Homo sapiens: one gene and its partners. The protein of the gene in region 2 interacts with the protein of the main gene of each other region in a pairwise test. Each region holds a gene or a part of one and is shown on either strand. Other genes may lie near its edges.

The links.
Region 1: the proteins of IFIH1 (region 2) and RIOK3 interact in binary tests that used the Homo sapiens proteins (3 or more experiments, as listed by UniProt).
Region 3: the proteins of IFIH1 (region 2) and MAVS interact in binary tests that used the Homo sapiens proteins (3 or more experiments, as listed by UniProt).
Region 4: the proteins of IFIH1 (region 2) and TKFC interact in binary tests that used the Homo sapiens proteins (3 or more experiments, as listed by UniProt).

What each region holds. Positions count from the first base shown.
Region 1 is NC_000018.10:23,463,280-23,470,307, reverse strand, and holds part of RIOK3 (serine/threonine-protein kinase RIO3), read right to left. Parts: intron 6,342-7,028; coding exon 6,196-6,341; intron 6,103-6,195; coding exon 5,995-6,102; intron 5,790-5,994; coding exon 5,680-5,789; intron 4,176-5,679; coding exon 4,032-4,175; intron 2,910-4,031; coding exon 2,782-2,909; intron 1-2,781.
Region 2 is NC_000002.12:162,266,657-162,273,684, forward strand, and holds the end of IFIH1 (interferon-induced helicase C domain-containing protein 1), read right to left. Parts: intron 5,732-7,028; coding exon 5,570-5,731; intron 1,622-5,569; coding exon 1,431-1,621; intron 914-1,430; coding exon 823-913; intron 724-822; coding exon 544-723; 3' UTR 418-543; downstream 1-417.
Region 3 is NC_000020.11:3,842,965-3,849,847, reverse strand, and holds the start of MAVS (mitochondrial antiviral-signaling protein), read right to left. Parts: upstream 3,015-6,883; 5' UTR 2,945-3,014; intron 1-2,944.
Region 4 is NC_000011.10:61,329,380-61,336,255, forward strand, and holds the start of TKFC (triokinase/FMN cyclase), read left to right. Parts: upstream 1-3,848; 5' UTR 3,849-3,950; exon of another isoform or gene 3,951-5,240; 5' UTR 5,241-5,349; coding exon 5,350-5,352; intron 5,353-6,460; exon of another isoform or gene 6,461-6,558; intron 6,559-6,824; exon of another isoform or gene 6,825-6,870; coding exon of another isoform or gene 6,871-6,876. Other genes in the region: DDB1 (DNA damage-binding protein 1), read right to left, coding at 1-205, 579-695, 2,164-2,312, 3,529-3,589.

The DNA of each region.
Region 1 (7,028 bases), on a different chromosome or scaffold from region 2:
CTGCAAGCTCCGCTCCCAGGTTCACGCCATTCTCCTGCCTCAGCCTCCCAAGTAGCTGGGAGTACAGATGCCCGCCACCATGCCCGGCTAACTTTTTTGTATTTTTTAGTAGAGACGGAGTTTCACCGTGTTAACCAGGATCGTCTCGATCTCCTGACCTCGTGATCCGCCCCCATCGGTCCTCCAACGGATTTCTTTTTTTAACCTATTTTTAAAATCCAGATTGAGATCCAACTTCATTATGATATCTTCCCTGAATGTGCCTGGCAATGATCTTGTTCTATTCGCTATTCCTATCCCATATAAGGTCTCGTTTGCATAACTGGGTACTCTATTATGTAATTATCTTTCATTGACCATAATGGTTCTTACTGTAATGTTCTCCTTTTAGCTAAAGCTTAAGCTCTTTGAGAGTAAAAAATATGTCTTATATTTTATTCCCTGAGTAATCTAGCACAAATTACTGTTTGAATAATTGTTGATTGCCTGACCAACCTGAGAGTGACAGAAACCAGAGCTTTGACCCAGGCACAGTGGCCCACGCCTGTAATCCCAGCACTTTGGGAGGCTGAGGCAGTTGGATCACAAGGTCAGGAATTTGAGACCAGCCTGGCCAAAATGGTGAAACCCCGTCTCTACTAAAAATACAAAAATTAGCCGGGCATGGTAGTGTGTACCTGTAATCCCCGCTACCGGGGAGGCTGAGGCAGGAGAATCACTTGAACTTGGGAGGTAGAGGATGCAGTGAGCCAAGATTGCGCCATTGCACTCCAGCCTGGGTGACAGAGCAAGACTCCATCTCAAAAAAAAAAAGAAAGAAGGAAAGAAAAAGAAAGAAAGAAAGAAAAAGAGAGAGAGAGAGAGGAGAGAGGAGAGGGAGAGAGAGAGAGAGAGAGGAGAGAGGGGAGAGAGGAGAGAGGGGAGGGAGGGGAGGGAGGGAGGGAGGGAGGGAGAGAGGGGGAGAGAGGGGGAGAGAGAGAGAGAGAGAGAGAGAGAGAGAGAGGAAGAAAGAAAGGAACCAGAGCTTTGTGGAAAGCAAAACTCCCAGCCCCCTTGGTGTGCACACCCCTGTATAATACCTCCTTCCCTTGAGCATGTGTGGGATAGCCACTCCCTGGTTAGGTTATGTGGCAAAGGTGATGGTCTAGTCATTCCCATGATAACATAACACTAAGTCTCAGTCTTAGCAGACTGGAGAGATTCTCCTGCTGGCTTTGAAAGTGTGAGAGCTAGTGTGTGAAGAGGCCTGTGAGACGGCCCCATGGCAAGGAACTGCAGGGGCCTCAAGGAGTTGAGAGCAGCCCACTGCTGACAGCCAACAAGAAAGTGGGACCTCAGTCGTATAGCTGCAACTGAAAGGTGGCCAAGGGAAGAGGACGCCAAGCTCCAGAAAGGAACACAGCCTGGCCAACACCTAGACTGCAGGCTTGTGAAACCCTGAACAGAGAACCTAGTTAAGCCATGCCTGGATTCTGTCAACAGAAACTATGAGATAATAAATGGATGCTGTTTTGGCTGCTAAGTCTGTGGCAATTTATTATGTACCACAGAAAACTAACAAACTTTTAAAAGCATTAACTTTTAGCTGTAGAAAACTGAATGTTCTCTAGTTTTGCTAACTTAGAAATGTCAAAGTACAGATTATGATACCAATTCCACCAGAAAGACTGAACATTTATTATATTAGAGTATATTAAGTATACCAGGCCAGGCGCAGTGGCTCACGCCTGTAATCTTGGCACTTTGGGAGGCCAAGATGGGTGGATCACCTGATGTCAGGAGTTTGAGACCAGCCTGGCTAACATGGTGAAAGCCCATCTCTACTAAAAACACACAAATTAGCCAGGCGTGGTGGTGCGTGCCTGTAATCCCAGCTACTTGGGAGGCTGAGACAGGAGAATCGCTTGAACTCAGGAGATGGAGGTTGCAGTGAGCTGAGATTGCGCCATTGTACTCCACCCTGGGCAACAAGAGCAAAACTCCATCTCCCAAAAAAAAAAAAAAAAAAAAAAAAGGAGTATATTGAGTATAACAGAAAATGGACAAAGGATAAACAAGAGAGAAGACAAGAAAAAGAAATACAAATGGCCAATAAAGCACTTGGAAAAAATGTACAACTTAATCATAATTAAATAAATGCACACCAAAATACCAAGATGTTACTTTTCATCTCTCACACTGACAAAAAGCATTAGATTTGATAATACTAAACACTGATAAAGATGAGGAAGCCCGGAAGCAGTGGCTCACGCCTGTAATCCCAGCACTTTGGGAGGCCAAGGCGAGTGGATCACCTAAGGTCAGGAGTTTGAGGACAGCCTAGCCAACATGGCGAAACCCTGTCTCTACTAAAAATACAAAAATTAGCCAGGCGTGGTGGCATGTGCCTGTAATCCCAGCTACTCTGGAGGCTGGGATAGGAGACCTTGCTTGAACCCGGGAGGCAGAGATTGCAGTGAGCCAAGATCACGCCACTGCACTCCAGCCTGGGGAACAAGAGTGAAACTCCATCTCAAAAAATAATAATAATAATAATAATAATATACGCATTGAAAAAAACTGGAGAAGTCTACCCAAAATTATTAATGATTATCTCTGGGTGGTGGTATTAGGATGACTGTGTTTTTTATACATTCCTATACTGCCTAGACTTTCTACAATAACACTTTAAAAATTACTCTGCTTGCCATGCAGCATTATCTTTGATTCTGTGTAAATTCATTAATCTTGGGGAGAAGAGACTAAGTTTTCATATCATGGTATCATATTTTGCTCATTTACCTCCCTCCATATGCATGAAAGACAACAGACTCCTTTCCTGTACTAATACAGCCAGTGATTGTCTCCAACATTCCAGAGTTGACCATTTTATACATAAGTAAACGTGTCTTAGGATCAACTGCTTTTTCCTGCAAGAGATAAAGCACTGTAAGTGAAAATGACTGCTAATCACAAAATATTTTCTGAGCCACTTCTAATAACTTTTTTTTTTTGAGACGGAGTCTTGCTCTTGTCACCCAGGCTAGAGTACAATGGCACCATCTCTGATCACTGCAACCTCCACCTCCCAGGTTCAAGTGATTCTCCTGCCTCAGCCTCCCGAGTAGCTGGGATTACAGGCGCCCGCCACCACACCTGGCTAATTTTTGTATTTTTACTAGAGATGGGGTTTCACTATGTTGGCCAGGCTGGTCTCGAACTCCTGACCTCATGATCCGCCCGCCTTGGCCTCCCAAAGTGCTGGGATTATAGGTGTGAGCCACCACGCCTGGCCTAATATCTTTTTTTTTTTTAGAGACAGAGAGAGAGACAGGGTCTCACTCTGTTGTCCAGGATGGAATGCAGTGACATGATTATGGCTCACTACAGCTTCAAATTCCTGGGTTCAAGTGATCCTCCCACCTCAGCCTCCTGAGCAGCTGGGACTAAAGGTGCACACCAACATGCCCGGCTAATTTTTTAAAACTTTTGCTGAGACAGGGTCTCCCAGGGTCTCCCTATGTTGCCCAGGCTGGTCTTGAACTCCTGGGCTCAAGCGATCCTTCTACCTTGGCTTCCCAAGGTGCTGGGAGCCACCTCACCTGGCTTATTTACATTTTTTTTTTTTTTTTTTTTTTTAAGGCAGGGTCTCAATCTGTCACCCAGGCTGCAGTACAGTGGCACAATCATGGTTCACTGCAGCCTCAACTTCTTGGGCTCAACCAATCCTCCCACCTCAGCCCCCCGGGTAGCTGGGACCACAGGTGTGTGCCATGATGCCCAGCTAATTTTTTTTGTGAGCTGGGGATCATTATGTTGCCTGGGCTGTTCTTGCACTCCTAGGCTCAAGTAATCCTCCTGTCTCCATCTGCTATCCCAAAGTAGTGGGATTACAGGCGGGCACCACAGTGGCTGGATTTATTTACATCTTTGATTTAAAAAGCCAATCTCATGAAAAAATATCAAACATGAAGTTTTTTTTTCTTTACCCAAAGTTTTCTAATATGAATCTTTCTAGTAAAAAAGAAAAAAAAAAATCTATAAATCCTTACTGCTGTAGAATGCTCCTTTTTCTCATGTAGGCGGGCACTTCGACGTTCTTCTGAGTAGGCATGTTGTTTTAAAGCATTGAAAACATGGTTTGATAGTTTTAAATCCATTCCAATTCCATCTCCTACCTGAAACTCAGGTGCAAACTGCCAAAAGGAAGAATTAGCATCTAAATATTTTAAAATAGGGACAGTTAAAAACAAAAACAAAAACAACCAAATGAGATTAGTCTTTCTTACTCAATAGATGATCACACTAGAAAACCAGAAATCATAGCTACTACAGAGAAAAAAATTAAATAACTCACAGAAAGAGGAGCAATACTATTTAAGAAATTACAACCCAAAGGAAGGCATTTATTCCAGGCATAGAAAACATTTCATCACATCCAAAACTAAGGTCTTTCGGCATGTGCATTGTACCTTGCTTTTAGCCAAAGGACACAATATTGAACTGTGAAGGCTACACCAAATCTTACCAAAGAAATACAATTTTGTAATTATTTGTGGAGAGTGGGTTGTTATAGCAGACTATGTTCACACCATGACAATTATGTTCTAGAACTGTGCAATTCAGTTAGGTAGCCACTAGCCACACTTGGATATTTAAGTTAATTAAAATTAAATTAAAAATTCAGTTCCTCTATTATACCACCCAAATTTCAAGTGCTCAACAGCAAATGTGGCTACCATATTGAACAGCACACATACAGAACATTTCCATTACCACAGAAAGTTCTATTGGACAGAACTCTTCTAGAATTAGATCTGGAATATTTCTAGAAATGATATAATTGAATATGTTTACTTAACAAGCATTTGTGCTTTAAAATCTAAATGTTTAATATATTATATTAACCACAATATTTATGAAGGATTTAGAATGCTTTTTTTTTGTTTGTTTTTTTGAGGCAGAGTTTCACTCTTGTTGCCCAGGCTGGAGTGAAGTGGCACGATCTCGGCTCACTACAACCTCTGCCTCCCAGGTTCAAGCAATTCTCCTGCCTCAGCCTCCCGAGTAACTGGGATTACAGGCATGCGCCACCATGCCTGGCTAATTTTGTATTTTTAGTAGAGATGGGGTTTTTCCATGTTGGTCAGGCTGGTCTTGAACTCCTGACCTCAGGTGATCTGCCCACCTCGGCATCCCAAAATACTGGGATTACAGGCATGAGCCTCCATGCCCGGCCTAGAATGCTATTTTTTAAAGTTACACTTTACTTCTGATTTTACACAGGTAGTTCAGGCACAAGATAATAAATTCAAAATGCACAAAAGAGTATATGGTGAAAAGTATTTCTCCCTCCCATTTGTATTCCCCAATCGCCACCGTTATCTGTTTTTTGGGTAGGGATGCTATTTTATAGAGATATGATGAAGAATAAATGTTAATTTCATAATAACTATTTATTAATTTTAGAATCAATGTGAGTCAAAATAGTTTTTCAACACTGTTATGGAATTTTATTCTGAGGTACTTTATATTTTCATTAATGTCTCAGTTTCCATGATATTGCCATATTGTTATCTAAAAACATCTTTAGAAAGAAAGACATTTTTAGAAATCTAAGGTATTATATTTAGAATCCTGTTTTTGAAAGGTATTCAAACAAAACTCTAAATTCAGAGATAGATACTTTCTGTAACTTACATTTTCCATTCTTGCTGTGTTCTTTCTCCCACATACTACTTCATCATGTTTGGTGGTGATATCTTTTCCTTTTCCAATAAAGCCCTTTTTAGGAGTGGGAACCGGTTTTGCTAAAGGCAATTGAAATAAGCCAGGTATATAAAAATAGCAAAGACTACATTGCTGCATTCAACGTTGTCTGAAAAGACATTTGAATCTAAGAGTAAATTACCAAATGAGATTCAAAGAAAAATATAAAACTAAAAGAGTTCATTGAAAAGATTAGTCTTCCTATACCTCTATTCTGCTGCCCCCAGAAAGTAAAAACTTTGGTACCTGGTCTGTAGGGATCATCACGAGTATCCTGCCAGTCAACCTCATCTTCAGAGCTATCGCTGTCTTCATAAGGATGCACTTTTCGATAATTTTCAAAGGAAATGGAAACTTAAGAAGCAAAAATAGTTGAAGATTTACTTAGGAGCACATTATGAGTGTTTTCTACCACTCAATGAAGTTGTCACAATAAGGTTATAATACCTTTGCTATCTCCATTGAATTTTTTTTCTTCACGCCTAAGCTGTGCATCATATTCTCTGTCATATTCCATCTGTAGCATCTGAGCCAGCATAAGGTCACTGGAAGTATCAATGTTTTCTCCAGTAATAAATGGTCCTTCAGCAACACTATTCAAAATAAGGCAATATAAACTAATGTAATGTGCTTAAGTAAACAGAGGTTGCCAATTATGAGAGTAGGAGGTGCCTTTTCCATGTTAAAATTGAACAATGGGAAAGAACTCTATCAAACCATTTACCTTCTCCTGCACAGCTAGCCTTAAGACCAATGGCATGCACCTGTGGGAGTACCAACTAGGATTAAGAGAACTGGGAGAGAAAGCTAAACTGAGGCCTAGAATTCATTTGTTCTGAATGAAAGTATGAGGCCAGGTGCAGTGGCTCATGCCTGTAATCCCAGCACTTTGGGAGGCTGAGGCTGGCGGATCATCTGAGGTCAGGAGTTCGAGACCAACCTGACCAACATGGAGAAACCCCATCTCTACTAAAAATACAAAATTAGCCGGACGTGGCAGCACATGCCTGTAATCCCAGCTACTCGAGAGGCTGAGGCAGGAGAATCACTTGAACCCGGGAGACGGAGGTTGTGCCGAGCCGAGATTGTGCCATTGCACTCTAGCCTGGGAAACAAGAGCGAAATTCCATCTCCAAAAAAAAAAAAAAAAGAAAGTCTGGATGTTTCATTCATCCATAATGAAAGAATAGATACATATTCATGAAAAGATAAACTACAAACACTTGATCAAAACTGTACCTCATCTAGTTCAACTGCAGCATTAACGCGATATAACTAAA
Region 2 (7,028 bases):
GATGAGAACACAGTCTGGCTGACACCTCAATTTCAATTTTGTGAGACCCTGAGCAAAGAACCCTGCCTTTCTGACCAACAGGACATGTGTTATAATTAATGATTGTTGATTTAAGCCACTACCTTTGTGGCAATCTGTTATAGAGCAATAGAAAATTAATAAAAAGTAAAACTAGAGAATGTTATGACCATTTCATCGATAAGGAGACTGGTTCAGAAAGATGAACTGATTTGCCTAATTTTATTCTGAAAATTAGTGACAGAACTGAGACTGGTACTTTGGATTCTCATTTGTACTTCAGCATTCTTTCCACAGGACTATAATGCTCCACACTAATGAGAATTATTGGTAGATTTTCCTTACCTCTGCCCAACAATAAGATGGATAATGCATAATATATTGTGTTCTTAAAAAGAGTTCAATGCAGAGTAAAACAATCATTTTATTGATTCTTATGTCAGTTCTGTAGCATAATGAATACATTAATCATAATCATATTAAATGTTTAACTGATAGTATTTTAAAAGAATCTTCAATCAAGTGCTAATCCTCATCACTAAATAAACAGCATTCTGAATAGTCAAGATTGGGAAATGTGATAGGTAATTCTACCCACTTTTTGTATTGTTTCTTTGTTGAATTATTTTTGAAAACCACTACAAAATTCCTTATTTTGAGACAAGGCAAATCTAAGCCTTTGTGCACCATCATTGTTCCCCAAGCCTGGAAAACAAAAGAGAGAGCAAGAGGAAAATTAAATGTACATGCAATTAAACATTCCTGTTGGCTAAAGTAAAATCTGGCCCACAGCAATTTACTCACCTGGCCACATTTGCAGATGATTTCACCATTTATTTGATAGTCGGCACACTTCTTTTGCAGTGCTTTGTTTTCTCTTACAATGTAAAGTTCCCTATAAGTATCAAAGGGAAAGAATCATCATGGAGAACTGACAAAATACCAGTGTGTAGTTCATGGGTTATTGGACCTGGAGCTCATCCGCATGCCTGCGGTATTCTACACGGCATTCCTTCCTTCCCTCCTGCTTCCCAGGCTTGTTATTGCAACTAAGGCAATGCTTCTCTTCTACACATACCTCTCAAGGGGCATGTTGCCTTTCATAACTTCTTTCAAGTCTGTTGGTTATATTAACTTGACTTTAGTTGTTCAAAAATTTGAGAACAAATGATGAGCATACAAAAATACGTGCCTTGGATCAAAATGGCTTTGGTTCTTACACTTCTCTTTTCCTGCCCCAGTGCAGTTTATTTAAAACATAGACATTTAAAATAGGAATATAATTGAGAGGCTAAAGGAGAGGAAGTTGTAAAATAAATGAATCTCATTTGCACTATTTTGAAAGAACATTTACAATGCAACCTGCTTCACCCCTTGTGGAAAAATGTAAAAATGGGTCTTTCTGGACTCACTTGAATTCTGGGGTCATATTGACGTGATGCATTTTCTCAATTACATGGATATCTTCCCCAGAACAGGCTAGCACACTGCAGTTTTTGCAAAGGAAAGTTATTAGTGATGGGTTATTCTTGTAATGCTTGGCAATATTTCTCTTGGTTTTCATTTTCTTTTCCATTATACTTTGCATCTGTAATTCCAAAATCTGGACAGAGAAAGGAATAGTTAGTGGTTTCAGGTTTGTTTTCTTTTTTCAGTTTCATAGAAGTAAGTCTCCTGAAATTTGGAGGTCTTAGTTGTGAAAATATACCCTTAGCTTATGGTCTAGGAAATAAAAATAATGAGGTAATGACCCCCCAAAGAATTTGGTATATAATCATCTCCTGTAACCATGAAAATGTGCAGTCTTCAGGTATTCAAAAAGTAGCCCATTCCATTTCAGAAAAGTTCTATTGTGAGAAAGTCCTTAGCAATATTCAACAAAAATTCTCTGTCTAGCCTACCCATTTGTTATTTATTTATTTATTTATTTATTGAGATGGAGTCTTGCTCTGCTGCCCAGGCTGGAGTGTGTTGGTACTATCTCGGGTCACTGCAACCTCCATCTCCTGGGTTCAAGGGATTCTTCTGCCTTAGACTCCCAAGTAGCTGGGATTCCAGGCACCTGCCACCATGCTCAGCTAATTTTCATATTTTTAGTAGAGATGGAGTTTTGCCATGTTGCCCAGGCTGATCTCAAATTCTTGATCTCAGTGATCCACCTGCCTCAGCCTCTCAAAGTGCTGGGATTGCAGGTGTGAGCCACTGCGCCAGCCTACCCATTTGTTTTAATTCTGTTCCATAAAATAGGTCTAAACTTCCTTCCACATGGAATCTCTTTACTAAACACTGTTATTACATTACCAAGTCTTCTCTAATCTATGCTAAGCACCCAAATGCCTTTAATCTTTTTTCATGCTTTATAATTTTCAGACCCTTCACCATCTTAATCAGTCTACTCTTTACACATTTGTAGCAGAAACCACTAGTTTTTCATTCAGTGTCCATTTTTCCTAACAGAACCATAATTTTATTCTGGGTGGAAATATGCTAGCTAAATGACTACATTTCCAAACCAGCAGTCAATGACATGTAAAAAGCTGTTGAGTGGAATTTTCAGAAAATCTTCTTAAAAATTAGATAGCTGGCATGTGTACCTTTCGCCCTTTCCATTCTCCTCTTACTTCCTGCCTAGAATGAGGATGTGGCAGCTGAAATTCTAAAAGCCATCTTCGACCATGAGAATGAAAGCCCAATGCTATAACAGCATAAAAAGGAGAGAAAAGGCCTGGATTCCTCATAACTTCATGGAGCCAATACTGCCTAGATTCCTTCTGTGAGAGAATATGCCCATCAACCTCTTTATTCTATGCTCTGTGACTAGCAGCAGCACTTATTTTATAATGGAAATAATCTAGTTTATGTAACATATGAAAGTTGACATAGGGACTGAACAGTGTTTATACCAACACAACTTCACGGTAGAAAAATCTGGTTCTTGAATAATTTACCGCCAAACTGACCTCTCATAGATGACATATTTATATTAAATTATGGAAGAATTAATTGTTTTCTTTAAGACCGAGGGAGAAATTTTCAGTAAAAGTAAGTCATCAGTGCAGTTGAACAAAGCCCATCTCTTTGGCTTCTAACTCTACATTTTAGATCTCCCTTCAAGGCAGCCATATATAGCATAGAAAAGAGAATAAAACCTTGCAAGCAAGCCTGGAGGCTATATAATAGATTAATCAGACAAGTACCAAGATTAATTTCCTATGTAAATTATAGCAAAATAATACACTGAAATATTTTTCCCTAAAAGTTTTAATAGGTTACTTTTATAAGACATTTACAGTTCAATGAGCTGATAAGGTAATTATAGGATCACATACATGTGGGAATTAAGAAATGTGTATGAATGAGTCAGAAAAAAAATAAAGCCAAGGTAAGTGTATGGATTTGTAATCAGGACATCAGAAGCTAAAAGACTAACTCTAAAATAGTAAAGGAATTTGAAGTAACTAGAGGGGTAAACAAACAAAAAAAAGAACTCATAATAAATATACAGGAGGCACAGCTACAATCAGCCTAAGTCCAAATAAAGTGTAATAATGTAGCAAAAAAATTGAATCAATGCTAGAGAAAAACATTTATGATGATCAACTTGCTCCTAGAAGTCTGATTTAATTTTAAGAAGCTCTGTTATGTTTAAACTGTGTTTATGACATGGAAGAAAGATTTCATCTTATCTGTCAATTCTCATCATTCATTAGTGGTTGTCTGAAGATTGTGTTGAGAAAGATGCTCAAATTAGAAGAAAGTAAACATCTTCCCAGTAGCAATGTTTTCTACAGGCTTTGAACAGATTACTGGTGGCATGTAGCCCTCCTTCCCCATTGCCACTCCTACTCTAAGTTCATCTACCTGAAGTAGTTTTAGGAGGGCAGGTTTCTTGGCCAAAGGAGACCTAAAAATATAGTCCATTCTGGGGCACCCAAAGGGACAGAGTCTTATTCTAAAGAATGTCTGGAAGAATTTGACCCTTAAACTCCAGAGATTGTCCTAGTGTTGACCCCCAAAAAACTACTCTTAAAACATCAGTCTTTGTAAACATCTACTTGATTAATTCTCTTAGGACATTAACTGGGAGGCAGTAACTTTCCAGTGGCATAATTTGGTGACAAAAGTTTGATTTGATACTCTAAAATATTTGCTTTGCCTTGTATTTAAAGGGGTTTTAAAATAAAGTTTTGTGCAGAAACCTGGTCAGGAAACCTTGGAGTTGGTAATAGCAATGCACACCAATTTGAAAGCATCCCTTTAGTGAAACTCTATTTAAGGTAGAGCCAATTCCAATGTTAAGAAACTAACATTCACACCCATATGCAAGGGTGTGAATTTTCTTCTAAATGGATTGTTTGCTATTATAGTAGTTACAGTTTTTAATTCAGTGGTATGGGGGATTTCCTGAAATACTATAGAAATACATTCTTTCTTCACTGCATTCCTTTGCACAACTCAAATAACTGTGTGTTAGTAAATTGAGATGTAGCTAGATGACATATTCTGTATTTTCTTATCATTCAGATGCAGCTTCCCTGTCACTCCTTCTAAGAGACCTTCCTCAACCACCCAGTTGAAAGTATCCATCTAGTCTATGCAGCCATAAAAAAGGATGAGTTCATGTCCTTTGTAGGGACATGGATGAAACTGAAAACCATCATTCTGAGCAAACTATCACAAGGACAGAAAACCAAACCCCGCATGTTCTCACTCATAGGTGGAAATTGAACAATGAGAACACTTGGACACAGGGCTGGGAACATTACACACCAGGGCCTGTCGTGGGGTGGGGGGAGGGGAGAGGGATAGCATTAAGAGAAATACCTAATGTAAATGACAAGTAAATGGGTACAGCACACCAACATGGCACATGTATACATATGTAACAGACCTGCACGTTGTGCACATGTACGCTAGAACTTAAAGTATAATAAGAAAAAAAAGAATTTCAAAAACTACTAAAAACAAGAAAGTATCCATCTAGTCAGTTGTTTCATATCATCCTATTCTAATTCTCTTCACTTATCTTGATATATTATATTTCTTGTCTTTTAATGTTTGTTTACTGTTTCTGTCCTCCAAACTTCACCAGGCACACACTAGAAATATAAACTTCGTGCAGCAGGAGTCTTATGTGTTTTGTTTCCTCTGTTGGCTGTTCCTATAAGGTTACCTGGCACACAGTAGGCGTTTCATCTACATTTCTGAAATTAAAAAACTGTGCCTTTACAAACAAATTGGATCAAACCAAAATTACCATGTTGGATTGAATCAGTGAGTTGCAGCAGTCTTTCTGGAACAAGGCAGGCTAAATTTATATTATCCAAATTTATGGTTGGTTTTACTGGAATGAGGAATGGCTCCCTGATAATTTCCTGCCCACCATGGATCTTGATTCTCTGCATGTGAATCTGGATTAAGCACAGTTCACTAAACAGAAACTTATAATTCAGCACAATTTTTGTCTGGAGAATGAGTCACAGAGATATCAATGGCAACCACATGCCGCCATTTTTAAATGAAAATCAAATTCAGAGGTGACCAACAATACCTTATGAGCATACTCCTCTGGTTTCATATTTTGAACACAATGTATAGCTTTATACATCATCTTCTCTCGGAAATCATTAACTGTCTCATGTTCGATAACTCCTGAACCACTGTGAGCAACCAGGACGTAGGTGCTCTCATCAGCTCTGGCTCGACCACGGGCCTGAAAACACAAATAAATCAAGTAAATGAAAGGGTACGTTGTGATACAAATCCTCCTGGTTTTTTCTGGGAATGATATTCTTGCTCAGAATGAAATGATATTGGGTTGTTCAGCATGCCAGTCTTCAAATGGGTAAAGTTAGTAAAGTTAGTTATTAATCCATTACTTGTAAGTCAGCTCTTTGAAACTTATAATATGCTTTAATACAGAAAAAGTGTTCTAGAGTGATGATGGTTAGGCCTCAATGACATAATATCATCCTGTCCAGGCTTTTTGCTCTCAGAACTTCTCTCTCAAACTATGAGAACCACGATCAATGACTTGGACTGAGGAGTCGTCTTTCTTGGTAGGAAGCTGGGAGGAATGAATGGAGAGAAGGGTCATCTCTGACCTTGACACTAGGGCTGGTGAGAAGGCAGGTCAGTTTCTGGCATCCTACATTACATTCTTAGCACATTTTCCCATGGGAACATATTTAACATGGTGATAACTTTCTACAAGCCTCTTTATGAAAGTGATATTCAGGTATATTTTGATTAATAGAAACTTCTGTGGCCTGGCCCAGGAGCCTATCAACTATAAAAGTATCCTCAAGGAAAAATGTATTCTAAGTTTGATTACTAAGCTTATCACTGACTTACAAATAGACTCCTGAAATAAAATTATTTGCTAATTTGATGGCAGTCTGGTTATCTTAGTCTTCTATGACTTGCCTTTTATTCAAGGATGCAATTTAAGTTATTTAAAAATCCCTTTAGTTAATTTTATAGGAAGAATAGTGTATCTATTAATCAGCATAACACCTATGCCTACTCAACAGGTTACAATAATGCCATTAACATAGGTGGGTAAGAGATAAAGTGAAATCTGAATGAAAACAGAACATTTCACTCTTTTATTTATTTTTACATTTATAAGTCTGCCCCCAACCAACATTTTATCATGAAAACTTCTAAACACACAGAAAATTGGAAAGGATAAGGGAAGAAAATGCAGAAACAGCAGGGCTCCCTCAGGTTTGGGCATGTTACTTCATCAGACATTTGTGGGACAGTGTACTTTAGATTCCTGGTCCAGCTGGGGGCTCACAGACATCCTAGGAAAGAGGAGGCTGCTTTTGACTCTTACAAATGGGGCTAGTGTCATGGTCCTGGAAAGCCTTAGGGTACAGAAATAGCTAAAGAGGAGTTGTTGTTTAAACATACAACAGGTATCTGGTTATTATATGAATTGACAGCAATATGAAAGGCAACAGTGCACAGCATTTTAAAAATGCTCTTTTAACAGGAAAAAGGCT
Region 3 (6,883 bases), on a different chromosome or scaffold from region 2:
GTCTATGCCACATCCAATTTATATTCTAATGGGGTGGGACAAATAACAGATCAGTAAATTAATACCCAAATAAGAGTTCCAGATAGCAATAAAGGCTCTAAAGAAAGTAAAGCAGGTAATGAGACAGAGCCCCTGGAGACAGGCATGCTACTTGAACTAGGGGGTCAAAGAAGCCTTTCTGAACTAGCGTGCAGAACACAGCTGAGCTGTTCTCAGGCTCTGAGAAGATTGGTGTTTTAGGCAGAGAGCATGGTAAATGCAAAAGTCCTAAAACAAGAATGAGCTTGGCATGTTTGAAGAATAGAAAGCAGGTCAGTGTGGTCTAGGTCAAGAAAGCTAGGGATGGCTGGCTGCGTGACTCACGCCTATAATCCCAGCACTTTGGGAGGCCTAGGCGGGTGGATCACCTGAGCTCAGGAGGTTGAGACCAGCCTCGCCAACATGGTGAAACCCTTTCTCTACTAAAAATACAAAAATTAGCATGGTGGTGGGCGCCTGTAATCCCAGCTACTCGGGAGGCTGAGGCAGGAGAATCGCTTGAACCCAGGAGGCAGAGGTTGCAGTGAGCTGAAATCATCCCATTGCACTCCAGCCTGGGTGACAAGATCAAAACTCCATCATAGGAAAAAAAAAAAAAAAAGCAAGCAAGCTAGGGAAAGGGGCAGAGATTGTCAAGGTCAAGGAGGTGGCAGGGGCCACTCATGTAGAGTGCTGTAGGAAAGGACTCTGGGTTTTAGTTGGAGTGAAACAGGGAACCACTGGAAGGTTCCGGCAGGGAAAGAAGAGGATCTGATTTACATTAAAGACTTCTCTGGTGGTTGTGAGGACTTTGGAGGGGCCAGGATGAAAACTGGGAGACCAGTAAGGAGGCCACAGCCCAGGAGACAGGATGACTATGGTCAGGATGGGAACCACAGAGATGGCAGGAGGCAGCCAGATTCCTGGTGTTTTGAGGGTGTAGGAGATAAGGGAGAGAAAAGAAGCATGACTCCTTGGGCACTGGGTGGATGGAAGGTGCCCTTTTACCAGGCCAGAGAAGCCAGGGGAGGAGCAGTGGCTCAGAAGGGACTCCAGAACTCAGTTCGGAACAAGTGAAGTTTGAGATGCTATTGGATTCCAAGTGGGTTGTCAGGGAGGGAAGGAGGCAGGAGAGGACCAAGTGGGCATCAGGCAGGCATGAGACCTCTCTCAGGAGGCAGTGCTGTAGAGCAGACAGCACCTAAAAGCTGTTGGGCCACCAGACCTTCCTCACAGGGGAAGCAGTCCTGTCACTGGCCTCAGAGCCTCACATGCATGAGTTGCTTTGCCAGCCAGCAGGCCCTGCTACATTCCTCGTGGGGCAAGTACTAATGACAGGTCAGGAGAATCAGGAAGGTGAGGCGGGGGTCCTCTGAGCCTTCAAGAAATTAGCAAAGAACAACTCTATGGGAGTTAATAGATCCCTTTCTCGGCCGGGCGCGGTGGCTCACGCCTGGAATCCCAGCACTTTGGGAGGCCGAGGCAGGCAGATCACTTGAGGTCAGGAGTTTGAGACCAGCCTGGCCAACATGGTGAAACCCCGTCTCTACTAAAAATGCAAAAATTAGCCAGGCATGGTGGCACACACCTGTAGTCCCAGCTACTCAGGAGGCTGAGGCAGGAGAATCTCTAGACCCAGGAGGCAGAGGTTGCAGTGAGCCAAGATTGGACCACTGCGCTCCAGCCTGGGCAAGAGAGTGAGACTCCATTTCAAAAAAAAAAAGACCCCTTTCTCCTTCCTTTCTCATGGCATCAGCCAGGTACCAGAAGGCAGTCAGATGAGGCACTCTTCTGCATTCCAGCTTCAGCCACAGATGGAGGGGAAGGGATGATGTGGCCCAAACAAAAGGAAAGGAAGCCCACATTTGTTCACATTTATGGAGGGCCCATTGTAGACAGGCACATCCTAAGGTTCTTTCAGTTAATCCTTCCCCAATCCCGTGACAGGGAAAGTGTTGCCAAGGTGCACAGCTGGCCAGAGGCTAGCACAGGATTTGAACCCAAAACCTGCTGCCTCACTGCAACTGGTCATACACCTTGCAGGGCACAGAGACCCCTGCAGCGAGACCCACACAGCCACCTGCCTTCAAGCCCAAAGAGGACCCAAGGTCACTTGGCGGGAGGGAGGCTGAGGGTGCACTTAGGTGGAAGCAACATTTAGTCCAGACATTAACCCTGCTTTCACATGGCTGCCACAGGTCCCAGGTCGCTGGCTGTCCTCCTAGATATTTTTGAGGCTTCACGGCTTCCATACAGAGAATCCCTTTTTCGTGTTTTTGGTTTGTTTCATGTTTTCTTGGCACTTCCTTCCCAACTGAGAAGGAAGTAGGTGACAGAGTGTTCCCAATACAGCAAAGTTTCCGACCTGACTGTCCAGAGGCTCTGAGTGCATCCCGGAAATAAACACCCACCCTTCCCAAAGGGACAGGCCTCACAGCCTTGGATCGGATTCCTGGGCGCGACCCAGGTCCGCGGAGGGCGGGGAGGCCGTTTTGAGCTGGTGTCGCCGCCGAGAACTGTCCAGACCCAGCGGAGGGCGGCAGCACTCGACCTCTAGGCGCACCCGGTCGAGGCTCGGCCCCACCTTAGCGTCACCCTGGGCCCGCGGGCGGCAGGAGGAGGTCAGCGGCCGCTGCCCGTCCCCTTCTGGCCCTACCTTTCCCCCAGCCTGAGCAGACGCCCAGCGCCACCTACCCCCTTTTCCCCGGATGCTGGATGCGGCGCCTGGAGCCCTCAGTGTTCCCGAAACTCTTGCGACAGGGCCCGCTCTTCCGGATCCCCGCGCGTCCTGTCCCCTCCTGGGCCCCCCGCGCACCCCAGACCCAGGGCGTCCCGGCGGACTCCGTCCTGCCGCTGCAGCCACCTTCCCTAAAGGCGTCCGTGCGTGCTGAGCCGAAAGGACCCAACGCCCGGGAAGCGATCTTACCTCGGGTACCCCCGGCCCTGAGACCTGGCGACCGCCGCCCGGGGCCCAGGACCCTTCCCGCAGCGAGGAGGCGGGGCGGGCAGAGCGCGCGGCCATTGGCCATGTGGAGGGGCGGGGCTACTCGGCCGCGCGTGGTTGGCTGGCGACGCAGGCGGCTGCGCAGCGGGGACGGTCACTGGGCCTTGGTTTGCGGGTCGGGAAGCGCTAGACTGGGCTCGGAGAACCGACCTGATTTTTTGCTGGGGGCGCGCAGTCTCGAGCAACTTCCAGGGGAAGTCCGGTGTCCGGCCAGAAACCAGGCAGGTGGCCGGCCTCGGAGTCATCGGGGGGCTGAGAATTCCATCCCCACGCTTCCCAAGTGAAGCAGCCCCTCCTCCCCCTGGGAACTTTGAGGGGTGAGGGTCTTCGTGTCGTTCTCTCCGGCACCCCCATGGCCTGGCATACAGTTAGTGCCCAATAAACGTTGGGTGCCGCTGAAGTCACAGGGGCAAGGATGCCTATCCTGGAGACGTGCACGCTGGGCCTGTGGGAGTGGGAGCGGGCGGGGGACTGCTGGGTAGGTAGGCGCAAGGCAGGGACGCCAAGGTTGGCTGGCGGGCAGGCTGGGTATGGGTTGGGTGCTGCGTGGGAGAGGCCTCTTACGCCCAAGGGCCTGGGACAGGTACCTCCCGCAGTTCCTGCCATCTGCCTCGCCCTTCCCCTTCTGGGGCAGAGGCCAGCACTTACTGAGCACCTACGATCTTCCAGGCACAGGGTCTTCTATTCTTTTTTTTTTTTTTTTTTTTTGAGACAGAGTCATGCTCTGTCGCCCAGGCTGGAGTACAATGGCGCGATCTCGGCTCACTGCAACCTCCACCTCCTGGGTTCAAGCAATTCTCCTGCCTCAGCCTCCCAAGTAGCTGAGATTACAGGCACATGCCACTGCGCCCGGCTAATTTTTGTATTTTTAGTAGAGACGGAGTTTCACCATGTTGGCCAGGCTGGTCTCAAACTCCTGACCTCAGGTGATCCTCCCACCTCGGCCTCCCAAAGTGCTGGGATTACAGGCGTGAGCCACTACGCCCAGCCTCAAGTGAGGTTTTATTACTGTACTTTATATCCCTGTGAATATTTCACAACCTTCAGCATTTACAAAGTATGCTTAATCACACCTGAACTGTAATAAAACCAGCTCTGCCTAGTTTAGCCAAGAGGGCATAAATGTTGATTAGTTCAAGAATCAATCCTGCCTGCTCCCCACCGGAGCAGCTCTAGCAGCTTCATATCTAATTCTTTCAGGAAGAACATTGAAAGTGTAGGAGCGGGCTTCCAAGTGCAGCTATCACTCCTGTCTTTGCTGGACCTCAAAGAGCATTCAAACAATCCCACTGCCTGACTAGGTGGTTCCCTGCCACCTATCAACAGCTTTTATAAAGATTTAGACAAAGAAGAACACAACAACATGCTTATGGTATTCCTATCAAAAGCTCATGATCTGAAACTAATCATAGGGAAACAGTAAGCAAACCCAAAACGAGAGACATTTGACAGCTGTCCTATCCAATACAATGGCTACTAGCCACATGTAGCTATTTTAATTAAAATTAAATAATACTTAGAAGCCAGTTCCTGAGACCCACGAGCCACATTTCTCTTTTTTTTTTTTTTTTTTTTTTTTGAAACAGAATCTCACTCTTTCACCCAGGCTGGAGTGCAGTGGCCCAATCTCGGCTCACTGCAACCTCCGCCTCCCGGGTTCAAGTGATTCTCCTGCCTCAGCCTCACGAGTAGCTGGGACTACAGGCGCATGTCACCACGCCCGGCCAATTTTTGTATTTTTAGTAGAGACGAGGTTTCACCATATGGGCCAGGCAGGTCTCAAACTCCTGACCTCAAGTGATCCACCCACCTTGGCCTCCCAAAGTGCTGGGATTACAGGCGTGAGCCACTGCACCTGGCCCATGAGCCACATTTCAAATGCTATTTTCATGTAGCTAATGGCTTCATACTCGGTGACACAGAGCATTTCTATTTTTTTTGTTTGTTTTGTTTTGAGACAGAGTTTCACTCTTGTTGTTGAGGTTGGAGTACAATGGCGTGATCTCGGCTCACCACAACCTCTGCCTCCCAGGTTCAAGCGATTCTCCTGCCTCAGCCTCCCGAGTAGCTGGGATTATAGGCATGCACCACCATGCCCAGCTAATTTTGCATTTTTAGTAGACACGGGGTTTCTCCACCTTGGCCAGGTTGGTCTCAAACTCCCGACCTCAGGTGATCTGCCTGCCTCAGCCTCCCAAAGTTCTGGGATTACAGGTGTGAGCCACAGCGTCAGGCCCAAACAGAGCATTTCTATCATCACTGAAAGTTCTATTGGATAGCACTGCTCTGCAGAATAACTCTTCAAAAATTTCAAGGTCAGGAAAAACAAGGAGACTGAGAGACTGCTCCAGAGAAAAGGACACCAAAGTGACATGACAACTGAATGCAATATGGGAACCTGGGTTGGATCCTGAAACAGAAAAAGGACTTCAGGTGAAATCCAAATAAGGCTTTTGGATCAGTTAACAATAATCTAGCTGGGCATGGTGGCTCACGCCTCTAATTCCAGCACTTTGGGACGCCGAGGTGGGTGGATCACCTGAGGTCAGGAGTTTGAAACCAGCCTGGACAACATGGTGAAACCCTGTCTCTACTAAAAATACAAAAATCAGCCAGGCATGGTGGTGGGCACCTGCAATCCCAGCTACTCAGGAGGCTGAGGTAGGAGAATCGCTTGAACCCGGGAGGCAGAGGCGGCAGTGAGCCGAGATCGCACCATTGCACTCCAGCTTGGGCAACAACAGTGAAACTCTGTCTCAAATTAACAACAACAACAACAATCTGTCAGTGTTAGGATCATTGTACTGGGTTATGTAAGATGTAAACATTTGCATTATTTTTGCAACTATGTTGTAAATCTGAAATTATTTCAAAAATATAAAGTAAAATAAATCATCTTTTGACCCTATCTGGCTATTTATATTATCTTTTATTTCTTATTGCATCCCACCCTATTTCATGGGTGTAATTCATTGATCACTGTCCATTTATTAGGAGAAGAGCAAGTCCAGAGAGTGATCTATGCTCTAGGCTGCCCCCAGTGAGGGCCTTGGAGCTGCCCCCTGCCCAGTAAAGTTCAGCACAGACAGGCCCATCTCCAGGCCTCCGAGGGAGGCTGTGACCCACCCATGATGACTCAGCACCCACCAGCTCACGTCACCCCCTGGAGAGCAGAGGTCAGGCGCAAAGACAGTGCCAGAGGGCTCCAAACTCGGTTATGTTCTCCGGTCTGAGCCCTTGAGGGAACTATGACTAAAAAACATAATCCCCTCCTTTATGACTTCATTTTGAATAGTATTTTAAACAGTTATTCTTTATGTTTTATTTATTTATTTTTAAAATAAAACAGACACAGTCTTGCTACATTGCTCTGGTTGGTCTTGAACTCCTGGGCTCAAGCAATCCTTCCATCTAAGCCTCCGAAGTAGCTAGGACCACAGGCACACTCCACTGCACTTAAACAGATATTCTTTATACTATTTTAATTTTTTCATTCTTTCAACTTAATTTACCAAAAATATATACTGTTTACAGCTAATGTGGGGAAAACAGAAATATTTGATGATGAAAACCAAAATCCATATTCATAATGCCACCATCTACAAAAATTAGCCAGTCATGGTGGCACACATCTGTAATCCCAGCTACTCAGGAGACTAAGGCAGGAGAATTGCCTGAACCCAGGAAACGGAGGTTACAGTGAGCCAAGATCATGCCACTGCACTCCAGCCTGGGCGACAGAGTGACTCCATCTCAAAAAAAATACTACTAATAATAATAATGCCACCATCCAGGGGTGACTGCTGGTGACGCTCCAGTGTCTTTTCTAGTATTTTTTTTTTTTCCTACAATACAGAGTCT
Region 4 (6,876 bases), on a different chromosome or scaffold from region 2:
TAGTAGGTGCTTGGCAACCATATAGGAACTTGACATCAATGACATGCAGCTCCTCCAGGCGGATGTTGAAGGCCTTGAGTTCTTTATTATCGCGATCTAGTGGAATAACCTTGAAAAGGCCATCATAGAGACGCAGGCCAATCATCCGGCACTCAGGGTCAATGATGCCAATAATGCCGGTCTCTGAGGGGCGGCCAATGCGGTCCTGAGAAACAAAATCGGGATTAGGGAAGAACCTCAACATCCACAGAGCAACAGAGGACGCTGGGCACCACTTGTGCAGAAAAATTTTAGGAGAGGTATTAAAACTAATGGATCTATTTGATAGGCCAAATAGTTGGAGCCCCAATGTCAGTGCATGCCTTTTTCATGAAACACTGAATCTCAATGAATTATTACCCTGTCCCTTGGGTCTTGAGTGAACTACAGGAGTCCTTTCTCCAAAAAGCTCAAACCCATAGTGTCTTCTCCTTATTTCTCTGATCGAATAGAGAGCTGCCCCCAGCACTTTAATTTTTTCCATGAATCATGACAGCCCTACTTAGAAAACTTTCATTGGCCTAAAGCAGCCACCTCACCTGGACATTGCCATGGGCTCGCGTAATGATGTCAATGCTCTCGCCACTCTGTTTATACTCCAGGATGCAGGCATTGTACTTCGCTGTCAAGATAAACAGCAGGTCCTTGCTCTCCCCCTGGAAACCAATATTATGCTATCAAAAGAGGTTCTTTTTAAAACAGGAACAACCTGTCCAGTCTTTAAGCACACCAAATTCTTTAAGAATTTTCCAAATTCTTCTCTCCCTAAAGAGAAAATACATGGTGAGCTTGTAACCCACACTAGGTACACATACACCCTAAGGGCATGTACAAAAAGCCAGAACTGAAGCTGGTAAACATCTAGTTCTCACTTTCATGATTCTCCATCTCTCTGTTCTACAAACAAAGTCTTCATCTATTTCAATCTCAAGCTAATCTCAATCATCCCATTCAAATTCTGAAAGATGAATGTAATGCCTCCTCCACTCCTCCCCAAGTATTTGAAGAAAGAGGAAAAAAAATGTGGGAATAACAACGGAAGCTAAAATGGATCAACAAAGTCCTACTTATTTAACACAGACTCCAAAAAATTGCTGTTTTGTTCAAAGGGTTATAATTAAAATTTTGAACCCACTGCTTTCTTGCCAGATTCAGTTAAGACAACATAAAGCAATGTGGTGGTGATTTGGATGAAAACATTTGCGCTAAAATAATGAAAATACTGATGGTAATTGTTTTTTTTGTTTGGTGTTTTTTTTTTTGGAGATGGAGTCTCGCTCTGTCACCGGGCAATGGGCGCCATCTCCACTCACTGCAACCTCCGCCTCCTGAGTTCAAGCAATTCTTGTGCCTCAGCCTGCCAAGTAGCTGGGATTACAGGCACGTGCCACCACACCCGGCTAACTTTTGTATTTTTAGTAGAGATGGGGTTTCACCATGTTGGCCAGGCTGGTCTCGAACTCCTGACCTCACGTGATCCACCCACCTCGGCCTCCCAAAGTGCTGGGGTTACAGGCGTGAGCCACCATGCCCGGCCTGGTAATTGTTAACATAACTGTAAATGCTTGCTATATGATAGGCCCTATGTTACTGAATCATTTCATCGTCACAACAACCCAGGGGATTTGATCTGAAAGGTGCCTTAAGTGGCACCTAAAGTCAGAATTAACAAGAAATGAAGCCAGGACTGCCCCACTCTGTAGCCTATCCTCTGAAACAAACTGCTTTAATTTCTCCCTTCTAAAGAAGTCAACTTCATAAATGTTTCCCTAATGAATCTCTCCTTTTACTTCTAGAAAGCTTGGTCAAGAGTACATACTGAAATTTGCTATCCAAAGAGAGAAAAAAGAGAAGAGTTTTTCTCCTAAAGCATATTCCACCCATCCCAAGAATTCGCAAAACAACCTAACACAGCCCAAGCACGGTGGCATGCCTACAATACCCCAGCTACTCTACTCCAGAGGCTAAAGTGGAGGGATTGCTTGAGCTCAGGAGTTCAAGACATCCTGGGCAACACTGTGAGACCCCCGTCTCAAAGAAAATAAATAAACAAACAAAAATAACATAAAACAACCTACGACCAACAGTTCCCCCTCCACTGCTTGTCCCAACTGCAACACTTACCTTGGGCCTGAAAAGCTCCATGACCGCAATCTTCCCATACATGCCCACCTCTTTGACGGGCCGAAGCCCCTCGGCGGTGACCACATAGATCTCTAATCTCGTGTTTTTGGCAATCAACAGGTTTAAGTCTTCGGCCGAAGTAAAGTGTCCTGAAAGAACAGACCCTCTAACTTTTGAACTCAGGGGAAGGGCCTCCCATCCCTTCAAAATAATCCTATCACTTATGTCTAAATACCTCCAGAATTCTCATTTACTTCACATACTTCTCCAACTCCCTCCAGCTACTCCCCTTCTTGCCAAATCCGGCACCTCAAAGAGTCTCAGTTCATGCATTCAACAAAGCTACTTCCCTAATCAGACTAAGAAAACTGGACTGGACCTAAGAGCCGTGTGTCCTCCAAATGACAATGACTGCGTAATCCCTTCTCATGCCTCTTGCCCCTCCAATTTTACTCTATTACAGTTACAGTGGCAGGCTCTAATTGAGAATGCCGGAGAAAGTGTTCACTTCTTCCAGTCTTCATCTAAAGTCTCACAAAACTTTTATCTGACAGACCAAGTCAAATGAAGAAGTCCCAGAGCTTTATATGAAAACACTGTTTTGTCCACACCCCCTGCCCTCCTGGCAGTCTACCAATACCTCCATCCACACTCAGCTACCTCCAACTCTGAACAACAGTTTTGTTTTGGAATCATGATTAGGGTGTATATAAACATGCAAGCTTGGGGTCTGCATATTCAGCTGAGAATGTGGGTTAAGATGACTCTTCCCGGGTTCTGAACATCGGTGTCCTTAACAATCCAAGCGCATCGTCAACAAGGCAAACCCAGCACTGGGCCAGGCAAACCAAACCCTCTTCTCCAGCAGGGCCCTCATGTAAACAACAGCCCCAGGCAAAGGGGTTAGCCTGAAGAGGGCTCCTCTCCCTCTGTGGGATAATGCGGGCATTCCTCACATCCCTCCACCTCCTGGGCCCCCCAGACTTCCCCACAGGAAAATCTTGACCCCAAAGTCGTCATTACCACCTCCCCTTTTCCTGGCCACAGAAAGCCAATCTCCGGGCCCAAACGACACCGCACAACCAACTCACACTCCTCTGTCTCACTGGGCCCGCCCTGTTCTCGAGGCCGAATGACCTCCCCAGGACGAAAGGGGACCCTCGAGAGCGGCTTCCAACCCCCAAAAAGCGCGTACAGGGACGACTCTTTCGAGGTCGCGGTGCTGGGGGAGGTTCCTCGGCCGCCAGCGCCTTCCATTCGCCGGGCCCACTCCTGCCCGGCCGCCCCCGGGGCGGCGGGCCTCCCTAGGCCGCGGCTCCCCCCAACTCCCTCACTCGCCGGGGTCTCCGGCCCCGGCAGCCTCACCGGTCACGCAGCCGTTCACGGCGGTGGGCTTCTGGGCCGTTACCACGTAGTTGTACGACATGTCGAGGCTTGGAGCGGCCCGTCGGGACTCGAGCGCGACACTAGAAAGAGGGACACAAGCGAAAAGACAGGTGGCCCCCAACAGCGCGCAGCGAACTCCACTGCCGCTGCCTCCGCCCCAGAGACACGTTGCAGGCCAGAGCGGCCGGGGCGCGGGGCATCACGGGACGGCCTCACCTGGCCTCTTGGAGGACTCCCGAAGCCCGAGGCCGCCAACCGAAGGAGGCCCCGCCCCCGGAGGCACCGCCTCGCCTCTTTCCGCCAGCGCCCGCAGGACCCGGATGAGAGCGCACGCTTCGGGGTCTCCGGGAAGTCGCGGCGCCTTCGGATGTGGCGGATGCGGCCGTGAGCCGGCGGGGGAGGTGCGCCAGTGTCCTCCGAGCTCGCCCGCAGACTCCCCACCCCGTTCCGCGCCCTTTGCCCTTCCCCGCATCCAGTCCTCCTTCCGTTGCTCCAGGAGCCCTCGGGCTGTTCCTCCTTTGGGAACGGGAAGGACTGCGGAGGCATAGAGAGGGAAGGGAGACCGCGATTCGTGCATATCCCAGACTAGAACCTTGCCTGCTTTCCTTTCACTGTCTCAGTTCCTCCAGATCCAGCTGGTGCCCTCGCCTGACGTTTGAACGACCACCTGCTCACCTCCTCCCTTTTGCGCGTTGATTCTTCAGACTTCAAAGGGCCCACCGGTCTGCTTGCCCAACGTTATTAGTGCCCCTATTGCTCTACAAATTCGAACCTCAAACACAAAACCAGTATTTCTCCGTAGGGAACCTTAATGAGCCAGGAGAGCCGTCAGCCCTGCAGCCTCCAGGGTACCCCACATCAAACAGGCTCCCCGGGAACAAGAGGAATACCACGTGGCTTGGCACACTCGCAGAATGCCAGAGAGGAGCCAACCCCCATTTTACAGATGAGGAAGCTGAGGCTTAGGGAGGAATTGGTTTACCTAAGACCCTCCCCACAACCCCAAGTAGGCTGAGGCAGAGCTATGTTGATTCTTCCTATTGTGCACCCACACAGAGGCCAACACGCTGCTGAACCAGGCTGAACTGAGGAAAAGCTAGAAAGTCATCGTGGTTTACATCTTGCCTTTCCCATAGCAGAGACTCTGCCTGACTTTGGAGGCACTGAATTATCAGTAGTAAAAACACACTCTGTAGAAAAACTAGACATTGGTTTAGATTCTGGCTGTTACCTGTATTACCTTGGACAAGTCCCTAGAGCTCTCTGAGTCTGTTTCCCAGAAGTAAAATGGGTCACAAACCTGGCTAGCTCCCCCCATTCCCTTCCCTTTTGGTGCCAAGGCCAGTGAGGGCAAGCGTGTGACGAGCTTTGTTAACTTTTTCGCTGCATGTGATGCCCGTGTAAAAGATAGTTATTCTGAGGATCACTGTCCTTTAGTGATGAAGTGGGTGCTGTTCCTGGACATAAAGGCAGACCTGTGCTTGACATGGATTGATCTGTCTTCTGGCAGTGAAGTGCAGGCATGAACCTTGGTCAGCCCCACACTCTTCTCCATCCGTAGCCCATGTACTAGAGTTTGGACTTGGACCGAAGTCTGGGGCAGCTCCCTAATTACTAGGGTGCTGAAGGCGTGATTGTGCCAGTCGACTGCGAGTTCCTTCCGCAGCTTGTATCGTTACCCACTCCTGCAGGTGCTGCTGCTGCCTCCACTGTACTCAGACCCAGGTAGCACAGGATTGTCCATCCTCCAGCAGCTCAGTGCAACGGTGTGAACTCAGCCTGTTTCAGAGCCTCCACACCATGGTGAGTCATACAGGGCCGGGACGGGAATGGCAGCATGGTCTCAAAGCAGGATCCCAGCCTTGGGCAAGCTAAAGCTCCTTACACTTTGACTGAGAGATGCTATTGCCTCCTGAGGCTCACGGGTGAAGAGAGAGGGTCATCCTCTCTCCCAGGGTCTGATCCCTGCTTTTCTTTGTTTCCTGGAGGCTGCTGGTCCCAGCCAGGCCTGGGGCTGCAGCCTCTTGAGTCCCTTCAGAGCCACTCTGCCCCTTATCTGGGTCTTGCATTCAGAGTAAAACAGTAACAGTTACCTGCTCTGTAATAGACATTGTACCGGTCACAGAAGGAATCGTGAAGAATGACCATGTGACCGTTCCTAACCTTGGGGCTTATGTGGGCCGGTCTGGAGCTGGGATCTACAGTGTGGGAGGCTGGCCATGTCCCTGGGCTTTGCTCCAGGCCCACTGATTTGAACCAAAACAAGCCTTGAACATATCTGGATTCAAATTTCAGCCTGCCACTGACCAGCTGCATGACCTTTTACAGACCTCTCTGCGCCTCTTTTTCTTCATCTGCATTATAAGGCAAATTAAGGCCTACCTCCAGTGGTTGTGTGGTGTTGATCAAGCAGAGTCCTGGAGGCCTCACTTGACTTCCTTTCCTTTTCCATCCTTTCAGGCCACTGAAACCAGGGATAGCACTGGTCCCTAAACCCTCTTCTGGCTCTGTAAAAGACAGATTATCATGATGGGGAGCAGGCCACTTTCTTGGAGGGTAGTGCTGCTGGAGGCTGGGCTTGGAGTGAGGCCAACTCACAACTTCATTGTGTGTTCCAGTCCCTGGTAGGCTCTGAGAGCCACAAACCCATGTCCTTTCTAGGGCAACCTCTGTCACCCTCCACTTCCCTCCAGCCCCTCGAGAAAGCAGCATGATATGGCCAAAAGGGAACCAGCTTTGGAGCCAGGCAGACCTGGACACCTGCTGGCTGTGTGACCTTGGGCAAAATAGTTTAACTGTGCCTCAGTTTCCTCACTGGGCTCATCTTTCCTCCATAGGGCTGTTGGGAAGTTTTGTTTTGTTTTAGTTTGGGTTTTTTTTTTTGAGACGGAGTTTTGCTCTTTTTGCCCAGGCTGGAGTGCAATGGCGCAATCTCGGCTCACCACAACCTCCGCCTCCCAGGTTCAAGCAATTCTCCTGCCTCAGCCTCCCGAGTAGCTGGAATTACAGGCATGTGCCACCACGCCCAGCTAATTTTGTATTTTTAGTAGAAATGGGGTTTCTCCATGTTGATCAGGCTAGTCTCGAACTCCCAACCTCAGGTGATCCACCCGCCTTGGCCTCCCAAAGTTCTGGGATTATAGGCATGAGCTACCACACCCGGCCTGTTGGGAAGATTAAATGAGACATGCTCAAAAACACTTAGAACTGGGCCTGGCTCTTAGTCACTGCTCAGCAAATGGAACCAATCTTATTGTTCTTCTTGCTCCCTACAGACCTAGGCTACTCTGAAGCAGGTGGCTTAGCCCTGGCCCTGGCTGGATGCAG